2 linked regions of the Homo sapiens genome follow. The protein of the gene in region 1 interacts with the protein of each later gene in a pairwise test. Each region holds a gene or a part of one and is shown on either strand. Other genes may lie near its edges.

Region 1 (7,268 bases):
AGCCGGAAAGATTTCTTAACCCACCGAAAACACCAAAATGAAAGTTTGGGTATCAAAAGATATCACTAAAACGGTGACGAGAACCCCACCCACCTGGAGAAGGTATCTGCAACACATACAATTCAACGAAGGATTTGTACGCAGAATACACAGAGGACAGATAAAAATAAAAATTTACAAAAATCACAGAAGAAAATGGGCAAAAAGATATGAACTGGCAATTTACATGAAAAGATACTCAACCACGATAGTAATTCGGAAACCATATTTTCAAACTGTATCCACCAGATGGCAACATTTAAAAGTAGGGCACACCAAACGCTGTCAGAAGGAGGCCACAGGAGCTTTTACAGCTCACCTTGGGAGTGAACGGGTGCCACCACTTTGAAAATAACATGGTAACATCTGGAGGGGCTGCAGACCTTGTGCCCCAGCAACTCTGCAAGTAGAGATGCTATACATATTCACAGGGAGAAATACACCCAAATGCAGAATGACTTATCATTACAAAAAGAATGGAGACAGCCCAAATGCCCAGCATCCAAGATGCAGATGAATGCAGAGTCGGCTGCAGGCCCCTCGAAGTTTCAAACACACAAGCAGCACTCCACAGACTCAGGGCAGACGATGACACTCCAGGAGCGATCAGCACCGAATTCATGGTGCTGGGCGTGGAGGGGGTCTAAGGGCCTGGACGCCACCAAGGCCACTCGATGTGCCCGCCATGGTGACGTGGAAGGACCTCCTTCCCGCCAGGCCCCATCTGTCCGTCTTCCTCCCCAGGGTGATGTGGGTCGGCCGAGATGCCGGGTGGTGGTGAGCCCTCTGCCAGTGCTACCCTTGGGGAGCAGGTTGGAAATGCCTTATTTTGAAAGCTAATGTGGGCATGTGGCCGTTGGTTGTAATATTCTGTATTCCTTGTTGTATATTTTTGCTACCACATGACACAATTTTTAAAGATGTAACTATTGGCCGCGTGCAGTGGCTCGTGCCTGTAATCCCAGCACTTTGGGAGGCCGAGGTGGGCAGATCACTTGAGGTCAGGAGTTAGTGGCCACCCTGGCTTGTAACATGTTGAAACCCTGTCTCTACTAAAAATACAAAAATTAGCTCAGCGTGGTGGCAGGCACCCATAATCCCAGCTACTTGGGAGGCTGAGGTAGGAGAATCACTTGAACCCGGGAAGCAGAGGTTGCAGTGAGTAGAGATTGCGCCACTGCACTCCAGCCTGGGCTACAGCGTGAGACTCCATCTCAAAAAAAAGAAAAGAAGAAAAGAAAAGAAAAGAAACTATCTTCAAGAAGTTGTTCTGTCAGCCAACCTGAGAGGGAGCCACGTGGCCCCAAGGGTGGCCAGAGCCTATGGGCGTGGCTGATGGCAGAAGGCAAAGCTGAGGATGGGGGTCTGACACAGCTGAACCCCTGAGAAGGCGGGGGGTTGCGGTCCACAGTGCCAGACACAGCACATGCCAGAGCCCAGGAGAAAGGGTGAGCTCCCCTCAAAGACAGAGAGGGGCACCTCTGGGACAGGTGGGGCAGGAAGTCATCAGAAACAAGAAGCATGAACTGGTCCTGTGGGGTGAGGTCACGCTGGCTGGAGTGGCCAGAGATGAGGGCACAGGCTCAAGGGTGGCAGGGAGGAAGCCAGAGGGGTTGGGATGACTGCTCAGAGCCAAAGAAGATGCCGAGAAGCTGGTGGTGGCAGGGTGGGGTCTGCGCTGGGGACATAGAGGCAACACCACGGGTGTCTGAGGCTCTGACTAGACCCAGGATGCACCCACAGGAAGTGGGCAGAGAAGATGGCCCGAGGGCAGGAGAGGGAAAGAGGGCTGGGGGATGGTGGCCATCCATGTGGGTATGTGGGTATGGCCAGCCGGCTGTGATGACTCCAGGAAAGGGAGACCATGAGCCCTGAGCCAGGGGCCCCAGGACAGAGGAGAGGGGAACAGAATCCATTCACTTGGTAAAAATGCATGCAGAAAACCCACTGGGCGCACCGGGCCACGCCCCGCAAGTCACTGCAGGCACAGAGGGCAGGGTGGCCCCGGAGGAACTCCCCTGTTGCTTTGGGGCTCTGGGACCATTTCAGGTTCCTGCCTCACCCTGGGGTGGGGGCATCAGCAGAAAAAGCCAAGTCCCTGTGGAAGGGGGCTGGGGGTGGCACCAAGGCAGATGACAAAGCGTGCCTCAGCTCGAGGAGTGTCCAGGAAAGACCAGGCATGGGGTGACGGTGAGGGCCAGACACAGGCCTGGCACAGGCACTCCCTGCCCAGCTGCTGGAGAGGCCCATGCTGCAGAGCATCGCACAGGCATCCGCCTGGAGCCCAGACGCCCTTCACCTCTGGGTCTGCCTTCACCTCAGGGGCCCGCCTTTACCTCGGGATCTGCCTTCACCTTGGGGATCCACCTTCACCTGGGGATCCACCTTCACCTCAGACATCTGCCTTCACCTCGGGATCCACATTCACCTCAGGGATCTGCCTTCACCTCAGGATCTGCCTTCACCTCGGGATCTGCCTTCACCTCTGGGTCCGCCTTCACCTCAAGATCCACCTTCACCTCAGGGATCAGCCTTCACCTCGAGATCCACCTTCACCTCAGGCAGGGATCAGCCTTCACCTCAGGGATCCGCCTTCACCTCGGGGATCCGCCTTCACCTTGGGATCTGCCTTCACCTCTGGGTCCGCCTTCACCTCAAGATCCACCTTCACCTCAGGGATCAGCCTTCACCTCGGGGATCTGCCTTCACCTCGGGGATCAGCCTTCACTCGGGGATCCGCCTTCACCTCGGGGATCCGCCTTCACCTCGGGGATCAGCCTTCACCTCGGGGATCCGCCTTCACCTCAAGGATCCACCTTCACCTCGGGGATCCGCCTTCACCTCGGGGATCCGCCTTCACCTCGGGGATCTGCCTTCACCTCAAGGATCCACTTGCTCCCAGTTAGACAAGTGGCCCGCCATGTGCACACCCAGCAGGGCCAGCCCAGAACAAAGCATCGGCATGGGCCACTTCCTGAAACACTGATCCTTCTTGAAGAGTTTGAGAAAAAAACCACAGCAGGTTTTTCTTAGAATTACAACCGATTGTCATAGAGGAGTGTCCTGGCCACCCCTGGAGAGTAAGGAGCCCCAGGTCCAATGACTGCAGGCACACTGGTTGCTCTGAGACCCCATGGGATAGGGCCAGAGCCCACCACACAGCCCCCAACTGCAAAGGGCGTGGGAGAGGCGTTTCCTGGGACCTCAGCCCTGAGTGCCGCTTGCAGAGGGCAGGGAAGGGGCAGGGGCTCAGGCATGGGAACTCAGGCACCTGGTGGAAGGCAGGGGTGAGAAGTGAGGCTAACATGGAAGCCCGCACCCCCAGCCCCGCCATCCACCCTCCGAGGGTGGTCACTGCCAGTGCCCCCAGGTGAGCAGCTGAATGGCTTTCTCCATAGCAGGAGTGAAGCCTTCAGTGAGCTGAAGAATGCAGTACCCCTCATTCTGATATGCAGGGGCAGCTTGGTAGCCAGCCCCACCCCTTCACCTAAGCCAGGGCCTGCCATGGACACCCCACCCCCCATGGACACCCCACCCCAGCTCTGGTCAGAACCACTCCGGGGTGAGCAGCAGCAGCCCTGCCGCTCCCGCCAATGGCCTCCCTAACACATGATGTGCCAACTAATGCCTTCCTCGGGCGTGAGAACAGAGTGTGAAAGGGAAGGACCAGAGCTGCCAGCAGAAAACAGGCCCTGCGGGAAGGACAGGCAAAGCATGGAACAGACGCGAAACAACCGAGCACAACCTCTGTCCACGCACCCGGGAGATTCAAGAAGATGCTCATTTTCAAAACAAGGGCAGAATGCTATGAGACAGAACATTTAGAAACGTGAAGATTTTAGAGATGAAAAATGTAAGAGATGAAGTACAAGATTCCAAAAACCCTAGAAAAGGCAGTCAAAGGACTTTAGAATATAAACAAGGAGACAGAATATACAAGAGAAAAGCAACCAAACAGACCAACCCATGAATTCAGGGTAAAAGAAAAAATGAAAAGGAGGAAATTACGAACAAATAGAAGTAGAGACCCTGACTTCAGTGTGAAGGGCCCACCGAGTGCCAATAAATGCGAACCCCATCCTTACACCCGTCGACATGAAGTTAGAACACCAAGGAAAAGACAGGATCCTAAAAGCTTCCAGGGAGAAAAGACGAGTTGCCAACAAAGCCTGCTCATAAGTGACCTGATGCAGAAAGCCATGGTGACCCTATCCTTAGAGTTCCCAGGAAAGCTACTTAGGAACAGAAGTACCCCAGACACTACCACCCAGAGCAAGGACACAGCAAAAACACTCTCACACACCAAAGACTCATGCACCCTTTCAAGGAAGTCACACAAGGATGTGCTCCAGCAAAACAAGACAGGAAACCAAGAAACAAGCAGCTCTAGGGTCCAAGAAACAGAAACTCCAATCCAGGGGACATGGCAAGCAGCTGCCAGAGGCCACTTCTGGAGGTGCGATAAAAGGGAAAAAACTCATTCAAGAAAATAAAAAGGCTGGGCGCGGTGGCTCATACCTAAAATCCCAGCACTTTGTGGGGCCGAGGCAGGAGGATTGCTTAAGCCCAGGAATTCAAGACTTGCCTGGGCAACATGGCAAAACCCCGTCTACAAAAAATTAGCCAGGTGTGGTGATACATGCCCATAGTCCCAGCTATTCAGGAGGCTGAGATAGGAGGATCACTTGAACCCAGGAGGTTGAGGCTGTGGTGAGCTGTGACTGCACCACTGCACTCCAACCTGGGTGACAGAGTGAGACCCTGTCTCTAAAATGAAATAAAATAAAGATAACCAAGAGCTGGAGAAAATAAAACACCAACCAAGAACATCTTGCCTAAGTACAGAGCTGACGCAAAGGGTGTGGGGCCGTAAGCGTGCTCCTCTGGTCTGCGCCTAGCCCACTGCAGCCACTACTTGTCCTAGAGCTGCAGCCCTCCCAGGCCCCAAGGACCTGCACCCATGGTGGGGCCCTGGCCCCAGAAGCAGGAGAGTGGGGACCAGATGACACCAAGCAACTGAGTACAGTCCCACCCCAGCCCCACAGCAGCTCCTCAGGAGCCACACCGACCCATGACCTTGAGCATTGACTGCCCAGCCCTGTCCTGCACCATCCTGGCTTGAGCTGATGACAGATGGAGAAGGAAACTGAGGCCCACCCTCAGGTGGGCCTTTCTGGCAGGGCTGAGGTGGGGGCAGGAACCCCTTGAGGGCATTCCTGGCACTACCAGCCTCAGGGAAGGGGCCCTGCAGGAGCAGTCCGGGGCCATGCCTGTCCCTAGAGCTGCATTTCAGGAGCCCCACGGGAGGCCCAGAGGGAAGGGGGTGCCTGTCATTCCTAAGCCAGGCTCAGGAATCCATAGGTTCTGAACAAGAGACACTGAGACCCAAAGACACCCCAACCCCTGAGAGGGTGGCCAAAGCTCAACCTGGACTCTACCAGAAAATGCGGTACCTGGGCTAGAACAACCGGCTCAGCCATGGAAGAGCACTGACTGAGTCTTCACTCTGTGTGAGGCACCGTGCTGGCCCCCGTGGGGGTGGGAGAAGTGGGGGGTAATGGGGGTGGAGGAGAAAGTGGAGGGATGAGCAGAAAGCACTAAAGGAGCTACCATCCTCGGAGTCCCAGGTCCTCACTTTACAAGCCACATGGGCTTCTCAGGAGCCTCAGTCTCCATACCTGGAAAATGGGAACACCACCACCTGGCTCAGTGGGGTCCGAGCCAAGCGGTGCTGTTCTCATTGTTCAGGTGTGGAGTGGCATGGGATAAAGGGAAGCACATGAGGTGCACAGTGCAGGCTATGACCAGTGTTCTCTGTCTTCTTCCCCACCCCTGGAAACCTATGGTTGTGGAGGGGGTGCCAATCTGAGGGGTAGGGGTGACAGCAGGCATCATGGCAGAGGCAGCATTTGAGGGGGACCTAAAACCTAATGTGGAGGTTGAGTAGAAAGTATTGAGAAGAAACCCAGGCAAGAACAAAGACAGGGACAAGGGATGCAGAGTGTGTGTGTGTGTGTGTGTCTATCTGCATGCATGCATGTGTGTATGCATGCGTGCATAAGCATGTGTGTATGTGTGTTTGTATGTGAATGTATGTGTGGGTATGTGAGTGTGCATGAGCATGCATGTGTGTGTATGAGTGTCTGTGTGTGTGAATGTATGCATGGGTGGGTGTGCGTGCATGTGTGTGTCAGTGTGTGTGCAATGTGTGTGTATGTGTATATGCATGTGGATCTGTGTGTGTTCGAGTGGATGCATGTGACTATGAGTGTGTGTGGCCGGGTGACTGCTCTGGACCCCTCCAGGGCACTGTGGGGAGGGGTGAGGAATAAGCACGAGGATGCCTGGAGAGCCAGGCACTGGCCTGCCCTCCCTATACCCCAAGGCGTCCTGAAATCTGGCAGGGATGGCAAGCAGGAGGGACCCCCAAAGGTCATCTGAATCCCCAGGCTCTGTGGCAGCCAGGGCTGGGCCTGCCCAGACCACAAGGCCTGGGATTAGGAGATTAAATCCAGGGTGAGGAGGCTTTAGAGAGGCAGCAGCCCCTCCTACTCATTCCGGCAACCCCAGCCTCTGAGTCCCACATCCAAGTCCCATATCCACACATCCGGATCAATCTCTACAATGCACTAGGCCTGCAGGAGGCCAAAGCTGGCAGGATGGGCTGGCAAGGAGCAGGAGAGGTCAGGAGGCTCAGTCTCCACCTGCTGCTGACCTTGACTGTGCCCTCTGCCCCACAGCACCCCCAACTGCAGCACGTGGGCCAAGCCCAGCCAGCTGTTCCCTGGGTTCTTGAGGCCCTGGGGGTGGGGGCACTGGGGTGGCGAGAGGCCAGCCAGGCTGAGGGTGGGGATCCCAGTGGGGCTCAGGAGCTAAAGAGCAAGCTGGCTTCGTCAGGTGGGGCCACTGTGCCCCTGCCTCTGCCCAGGTGCCATGCCAAAGGACTGGGATGCAAAGCTCTGGGATCCCAAACCCTCCTGTAGCAGGGATGGGCCTATGGCCGGAGGCCACCACCTAAGGGGCAGAAGCCGGCAAGGACGCAGGCCCAACGCTGCCTGGCTGTGTCCCTGGGTACCCTGGCCACCCATGGACAGGTTCGGGGCAGGGTGTGGCCCAGCCCCCCATGGTTCTCAGAGACGCTCCTGGGCATGGAGTGGGTGATGGGCAGTGGGAGGTGACACCTTGAGTCCCTTTGGCCACCCATATTGTGGGTGGTGAGCCACATCCTT
Region 2 (7,998 bases), on another chromosome or scaffold:
AATGACATTAATAAATGGGTCATAAATTCCAATGAATTATAATGCAAAAGCAACAAGTAATTCTGAACTTAAAGAACAGGACAGTCATTTTTGTCAAAGAAAATACATGCATGGAATGCAGATGCCACAAACAGGAGATGAAATAAAACAGATAAGGAGAAGGCTGTATCTAGGCTGAATGGCTGGCCAATGTTTTCCTCTCCGTCAGTATAAATAAAATGGATGGAAGAAAACACCCCTGGATACTATCAAATATGCCTTTCAATTATTTTATGCAAAAACATTATTTTCAATAGGTGTCATTAAAGAAAACATCATAGAAAAAAGTTTGCAACTCATGTTACAGAAATTAGGCTAAAGTCTTTAATATAAAAACAGCTCCTATAAATCAATAAGGAAAAGAACACTGGCCTACTTGAAAAAATAGACAAAGGTTATTTATAAACAAACAATGCTGATAAATGGTAAATGTGGTAGTTCTTAAACATAAGATAAAATGCTCAATCACAGAGAACTGCAAAATAAAATCATTTTGGGATAGTCTTTTTCACCTATCAGATTTGCAGGATCAAAAAGTTTCATAAAATATTCTTCGCAAGAGTGTGGCAAAGCAGGCAGTCATACACATTGCTGGTGGGAGTATAAATTGTTAGAACCCTAAGGAGCTGCATGCAATATGGTGACAGCCATCAAAATTACAAGTGCACATGCCCTCTGACCCAGCAATTCCACTTCTGGGAAGTTCTCTAAAATACTTGCATATATGCAAAATGATGCATGTACAGGGTCATTAGCTATAATGCTGAAATAGCAAAAGCTTGGAAACATTACTGCCTCAGTAGGAGACAGGTTAAGTAATTTGAGACATCCTTACAATAGAATTCTGAAGCAGCTGAAAAAGAACAAGGAAGCAATCACCAAGAAATACTAGGAAAAGGAAGAGCTCATATGTTATTCCACAATTTGCATAGAATATGGTGTATTTGCTGAAATGTGCACTATCTGGAAAGAGACACAGGAAACTAGCAACATTGCTGGCCTCCGTGAGGAAACTGGGCGGCCAGGGACTGGGATGAGAAAGAGATTTTCAAAATGCTTACCCTTTTGTACCTTTAAACTTTTGCACTGTGAGACTGTATTAGTTTTTTAAAGAAATAAAATTTAAAATTAAGAAATAAAATGTTAAGGCCGGGCGCAGTAGCTCACGCTTGTAATCCCAGCACTTTGGGAGGCCGAGGCGGACGGATCACGAGGTCAGGAGATCGAGACCATCCTGGCTAACACGGTGAAACCCCGTCTCTACTAAAAAAAATACAAAAAACTGGCCAGGCGTGGTGGCGGGCGCCTGTAGTCCCAGCTACTCGGGAGGCTGAGGCAGGAGAATGGCGTGAACCCGGGAGGCAGAGCTTGCAGCGAGCCGAGATCGCGCCACTGCACTCCAGCCTGGGCGACAGAGTGAGACTCCATCTCAAAAAAAAAAAAAAAAGAAAGAAAGAAAGAAAAGAAAAAGAAATAAAATGTTAAAAACATCGTAAACATTAGTGAGACACAGCCCTAAGACTATTAGACTATTGCCCAATCTAGCATAAGACAATATGTCCTTCTTATTTGAGTGCTCGCATTCACTCCATAATAAGATAGATTTGGAATAAACTCTATTCCAAACACAGATACCTAAGAGATCCAAAGTTAATTCACTTTCAGGGACCTCCGACAAGATACAGCTAGTTTTAAGAGAAAACACCAGGACTAGCAGAGATCTGAGGAAAATATTCATCTTGCTCAAGTTAACCTAGAAAATGACAGGCTGTCTATTTTGTGCAATTTATTTATTTCTCAACTTTAAGGTTCAGAAATCTCTGTCCTGTAACAAGGTATCTGTTACCGGAGTCTGATTATTCTGCACTGTGTAGGTCATGTTTGTTATGAGGACACTTAGCAAACAAAGAAGGTTTTTCTCCGCCCTCAATAGCGTGGTAACGGATGACAGGACACCACTTTCAACGAAGGAGACAGACATTTCCCTGGCCTTTCTGAAGAGCGCTTTTTGGAGAGACAAACCTGTTGCTCAGGGGCTGAGCATTCCCGTGTGTTCTCCCTGTACTTCACCTAAAAATATGCCTGTTTTCCACACTGTGCACACCCGGGGGTGGGTGCTGGGCATACTCCACCTGCTTGTTTGCCTCCCGTTTTCTCATCAGGGAGTAAACACAGTAAACCTAACGCTCCAGGGGAAGGAAAAAACAAATCATTCAGGGCCCATCTCAGGTGACTGATGAATGCGGCACCGTTTTGAACGGGTACCTAATCTGGTCCAGATATGCCTGCTGGGGCTGCAAGAACCAAGACACGTTCAAGCACGTTTGCTCCGGCAAGCTTGGGCGAGCAGGTCAAGACCTCAGAGTTTTAGAAAGCAGGGGCGAAGTTTTCAAGCACGATGGGAACACCTGTAGGTGCAGGTGCCTGAGGGTCGGCCGACCACCTCGCATCTGAGGCTGGATCCGCACACGGAGAACGACAACTGCTCACAGGGACGTGCGTCCGGAGGAAAGTTGCGGTGAGTGTCTACCTGTTCGAGACAGGTGGCCGAGAAAGTGGGGCAGGGCTGACAATTCTTCCTCCGCAGTGTCCCGCGGGCTCCCCCTGCACTGGGTCCCCGGGGCCCCGGGCGCCCCAAGGTCACCTGCCCTCCTCAGCGCCCCCACCTTGCCCAAGCTCTCACCAGAACAGCAGGTTGGCAGCGACGAAGCCGAGCAGGCTCCGCAGCGGCCTCTTCCAGCTCAGCAGCTCGTCGGCGCGGCAGCCCAGCCACAGCACCGGCTCCCCGAGCAGCCAGGTTACCGCGGCCGCCGCCCGGCCCGCGGCCTCCTCCACCTGCAACCCCGCGCCCTCCGCCGCCCCAGCTTCCTGCGCTTCCTCCTCCTGCTGCTGCCGCTCTGCGGGGGATGCCTGGGGCGGTGGCGGCGACGGCGGCGCCTGCTCCTCGGCGGCAGGAGCCGGGCATCCCTCCTCGGCGTGCTCCGGAGGCGCCGGGCTCGCCATCTTCAGCTGTGCTTCCAGACAGGGACGGGGCCGGGCGCGCGCGCGGGCGCGCCTGGGTGTGGGTGCCGCCGAGGGCGGGGCGGCGGTGGCGGCAGGTCCCGGAGCGGGGCGCGCACCGCGGGGCACAGGCGGCTGGGGGCCTTGTGACGCCACAGGCCACGGAGGGGGAGCCGCCCGGGAAAGTGGGTGCGGCCGAGTTCGCGCAGGGGCGGGGCCGGGCGCCGGGAGCTGGGCGGTGTCCCCGGGGGGCTCTGGGTTCCTGGAGGGCCTCTCCGGGACTCGAGGAAAACGACCTTTTCCCTTGCAGCGGCGGGAGAGGGCGAAGTGGAGGACTGCTGCTCGGTTCCGTATCCAAAAGAGACCCAAGGCTCCAGGCAAAATAGATTGGACATTTTCACTTTCTCAAGCCAGGGCCACCGGTCGCCCAACCAGCAGCCACTGAGGGTGGTATCGGGGCGCCCCTTCCCCTGGCAGCGTATTTCAGCCCCCAGAGACATCCCCCACCTCGGCCATCCCCAGCGCCTTTGCAGGGACAGCAGCACAACCATAGCAGAGGTCCTGGGCATCCTGGAAATAACGTGCTGGTATAAATGTTGGATTGAGAAAGGAAGAAAAAACATTTGGGGTCAATTTGGGGCCCTCTCGTTTGACACGGGAGGAAACACAAGGCCGCAGCGTTGGGGGAAGCTGCTTCCTTTCTCTCTCTTCTTTCTCTCTGTCTCAGGTGCTTCCTTTCTCTTCTCTGTCTCTCTCTCTCTCTCTGCCTCTCCCTCTCTCTCCCCCGTCTCTCCCCCTATCTTCCCCTCTCTCCTCCTATCTCCCCCTCTCTCCCCCTCCTTGTGGCTAGGTGATCTGGCTCAGAAGTGCACGTTGGCCCGCGCGTGCGGGGAGCTGAGAAGCAAGAGATTGGAACTTTGCACGTGTCAAGCAAGGTTTGGCCTGCTTTGAAGACAGTAATTTCAGAGCCACTCCGGTCTCTGCGTCACAAGCGGGCATCAGGGCAGTGGTGGGGCGGCAGGGGATCCTGAGACCTCCCATGCCCTCTCTTTGGCCCCGGTGCTTCTGGGTGAGTGTGGGGAGAGAGGAAAATAGTTGTTTATGCTTTTCACCATTTGCATTTTTAAATTTTTGTCTTCTTTAATCTTCCTGGTCTTACTTTTACTCTAGAATGACAGGTCCTTCCCCCCCATACTAAGGGTTCTGTCTGCGGATGCATCAGGGCATCTCATATCCCTTTACTGGCAACCAGCCTGCCTGCACAGGATGGAAGGGAGGGCAATTAAATTCCCTGCGTCAAGGGAGTCTCTAGGGGAATGTTCTGTAACGCTCCTCTGGGTGGCCATTGTAAACCTCTGTGTATACACACGTGGAATCCATTGATCTGTACATTCACTGCAGGTGTCTGCACTTTACTGCTTGTATGTTGTACTTCAAAGGAGTTATATTCCCAGAGCCCAGGCAAAGGCTTACTGAGCACCTACCGAGTACACAAAGCATTGCTAAGCTCTGTGGATGCAGCTTCCACCCACAGGAAGCTCCCAGTCTGATGAGGGCCCAGTTACAATTGTGATATCTGCCACAGCGAAGAAGCCTTCGCTAAGTGCTAAGAGATTCCTTACTTAAACTGTGCATCCAAAATTAGGGGAGGAGTGGAGGGATCAGGTTTCAAGAGCGTTTTGTAATAAATGGCCTCTGCCCTAAATTGTAGGGCCCCCATTAGTGTGGGGATTGGGGACAGGGGCAATAACTGCTGTTGGGAATTCAACAGGAGAGGAGGCATGGGGTTGCAGGTGGAGACGCACAGTTCCTTAAGTAACTCACCAAAGGGAATAGTGGACATTGAATGGTCTCTAGTAACAGGAGGCTTGGTTTTTAACTAAAGGTGATACAGAACATCTGGCATTTCCGACTCCCCTTCTTAGGAGTATCCTGACAACCCGATGGAAAGTGGCCTGGGTGTCAAGGAAAAAGCAACGTGGAAACAATTCAGGTTTCTTCCATATAAGAGAGACAATCTTTTCCCAGGTGTGGGTCCTCCCTCTTGGCAGTAGCGGAGAAGTTTTTGAAAGATAAATGATGCTTTTATTGTGTCATTTGGCCTTTGTTTGGCGCTTGATACAGCCCAGGGTTTGCTATTCTAAAATCTGTCACTAGACAGATGTGTGCTGCAGCCAGTGTGGAGAACATGGGGCAGGAGAGAGGAAGAACCAGGTGTCCCCGTTCCCCAGACCAGTGCTGATGTGCTACCAGAAATGGGTTTGCAAGATTAATCACCTTCCTCCTGCTTCCCTTGAATTCTAATTATTGTTGTCAGGATCTGTTGAAGTAGTAAAAGCTGCTGGCAACCAAGACACATAAAAGCTAAGCTCCAGTTGCTGTGTGTGGTTTCCAACACTTATTTATTATCTCTGTTTAATAATAAACCTCCTTCCCCACAGCTATGTGTTGTAAAGTCTATCCTTTCTCTCTCTCTCAAAATTACTATGGAGAAAATGCTATGCAACCTGTTTTGCATAAAAGGCTGGGCTAATTAACCTTTCCTTTTCACCTCCGACCTCTAATACTTACAAACTGTATGACAGAAGTAGACACTGGCATAGACATACAAATGGTGCTGCTGGGTGGGATTTTGTTGTTGTTTTGTTGTTTGTCTAATGATCTTTGTGATGCTTGAGTAATTTATTCAGGGCTAAGATTACAGAAACATAATGCTAACAATGGTTGAAATCAACCTTGTCCCCTAGTTTTAAGAACACGCCACATTCTTGAACTCCTGCAAGTAATCTTACTAAGATTCTCTTCTGAAATTTTATTGCTATATATTAGGAACAGAGTGATTAACACTAGTGAGCTAGATGATTTGACAATATATATCTGAGAAAAGGAAACTGGAAACGTGTCTGAGAAAAAAAAAAGTTCTAGCTACTGAATGAGAGTTTAGAAAATGAGACAGCTCCAGTAAAGAAAGTCCAAATGCACATAAGAACTCTCTAACAGAGGCCACTCACTTTTCTCATCTAAGAGTATGTGGAAAGCTTGTAATAGGAGAGGAAAAATTATGAATAATTAATTCCCACTATAGGAAGTCTCCTAGGGCAAAATCAAGCTAAGACTTAGAATGATGGGGAAAAGCCCCCTAGTCATAATATTTTGGGGAAATTTCTTTTCTCTACAATATTATATATTAGAATCTTACAGTAGCTCCATGATTCCTTAAACAAAAGGAGGCTCGTTGATATGGTTTGGCTCTGTGTCCCCACCCACATCTCACCTTGAATTGTAATAATCCCCACGTGTCAAGGGTGGGACCAGGTGTAGGTAATTGAATCATGGGTGCGGTTTCCCCCATGCTGTTCTCGTGATATTGAGTGCTTGCAAGATCTGATGGCTTTATAAGGGGGCTTCTCCCTTCACTCAGCACTCATTCTCTCTCCTGCCACCCTGTGAAGAGATGCCTTCCGCCGTGATTGTAAGTTTCCTGAGACCTTCCCAGCCATGCGGAACTGTGAGTCAATTAAACCTCTTTTCTTTATAAATTACCCACTCTCAAGTGTTTCCTCATAGCAGCATGAGAATGAACTAATACACTTGTGTATATGTTGTATCGTTTATTAGCCTGCAGATAGAATTTTTTTTGTGTTGGTACTTTTATTAAACTAATTCTACCCTCCTCCCCTTGCTATATCCTCTGCTCCTTATTCCTAAGTTTCCATAATTTTCTTCTCACTAAGAAAACCTGGATAGTTCACTCTAAGCACAGATAAATAAGAGTATCATACAGCATCAGCAGGCACAGAGCAATTGGAAAGGAAGGAAGATCATCTCCCGGGTCTCTAACCTGGCTTCCAAGGCCCAGCCCAGTGCCTGGCTCACAGAAGGAATTCACTATTTCTACTTATGTTGAATGTCTGTTGTGCATATACAGACGGAAATATTCAAACTAGCATAGTCTGTGTTTGACAAGCATTCCATAAGGGATGTGCTTACCAGAAAGATGGTGGCCAAGATGTTGGCCACCCAGATATCAGTTGGGGTATTGCTCCCTAATACCTAAAAGAAGTTTTTTTTTTAAGGCTTCAAAATGGTTAACTGAAAAGAACGGAGGTCACATGACAACATGAGTATATCCCCCAAGGAAGCCTACCTGTCTATCCCCAGGTACACACACAAACACACGCACACCTATGATCCACAGGGGTGACTGCAGGACATTAACTTCCAACCCCTTCCCAACAGGAATCTGAACCAGCAGACAAAGCACTGTCGGGTCCTTGCTGCAACCTCTTCCCCCCACCCCCTTTGATGGTCCTGGTTCTGCATCATTGTACTTGCGTATCATTCACTCATTATTTCATTGCTTCATTCACTAGTCATCAGCCATTCCTGAAAGACTGACTGTGGGCTTCTGGTAAGATGAACAGGACTGCTTATTTCTCTCATGGTGCTTAGAGTATAGACAATGGATAAAGACCCTGAAGAAGGCGCTGGGCAAAGGGAATGGGGAAGCATGGTGTGCACAGTCTGGAAGCAGGAGAGGAGCCAGCCTGGCCCTGGTTGGAAACCTGGAGGAGATCTAAGCTGGAGGATGGGGTGGGAGGAGCAGGAGGCTACTCACAGTGGGGCTCCTCCTGTATGATGCTAGAAGCTTCTGCTTTGTCCTGAGAGCAACAGGGAGCCATGGGTGGGCTTGCAGCAGGACACAGAGGGGCTAGCCTGTGTTTTAGAAAGGTATCTCCAGACCATGGAGGATATAAAGCCTGGCAGAGGGAAGGCACTCTCAGAGACTTTTCCCTTGTCATTCTCTAGAATGAGGGAGGAGAAGGAGCCAGTCTGGAAGGGAGGCTGACAAGTTTCATTTTTAAAAATTGATCTGCACTTGGATATCTCTGGAGATGCCAGTAAGGTTGTTGGGTACAGAGGTCTGCAGCTCAGAGACCAGCAGGCATCCTGAACAAG

The links.
Region 2: the proteins of KIF1A (region 1) and RETREG1 interact in a two-hybrid assay, tested with the Homo sapiens proteins (one study listed by IntAct).

Annotation. Positions count from the first base shown.
Region 1 is NC_000002.12:240,810,110-240,817,377, forward strand, and holds part of KIF1A (kinesin-like protein KIF1A), read right to left. Parts: intron 1-7,268.
Region 2 is NC_000005.10:16,613,930-16,621,927, forward strand, and holds the start of RETREG1 (reticulophagy regulator 1), read right to left. Parts: upstream 3,069-7,998; 5' UTR 3,043-3,068; coding exon 2,723-3,042; intron 2,558-2,722; exon of another isoform or gene 1,997-2,557; intron 1-1,996. UniProt on the Homo sapiens protein: Endoplasmic reticulum (ER)-anchored autophagy regulator which mediates ER delivery into lysosomes through sequestration into autophagosomes.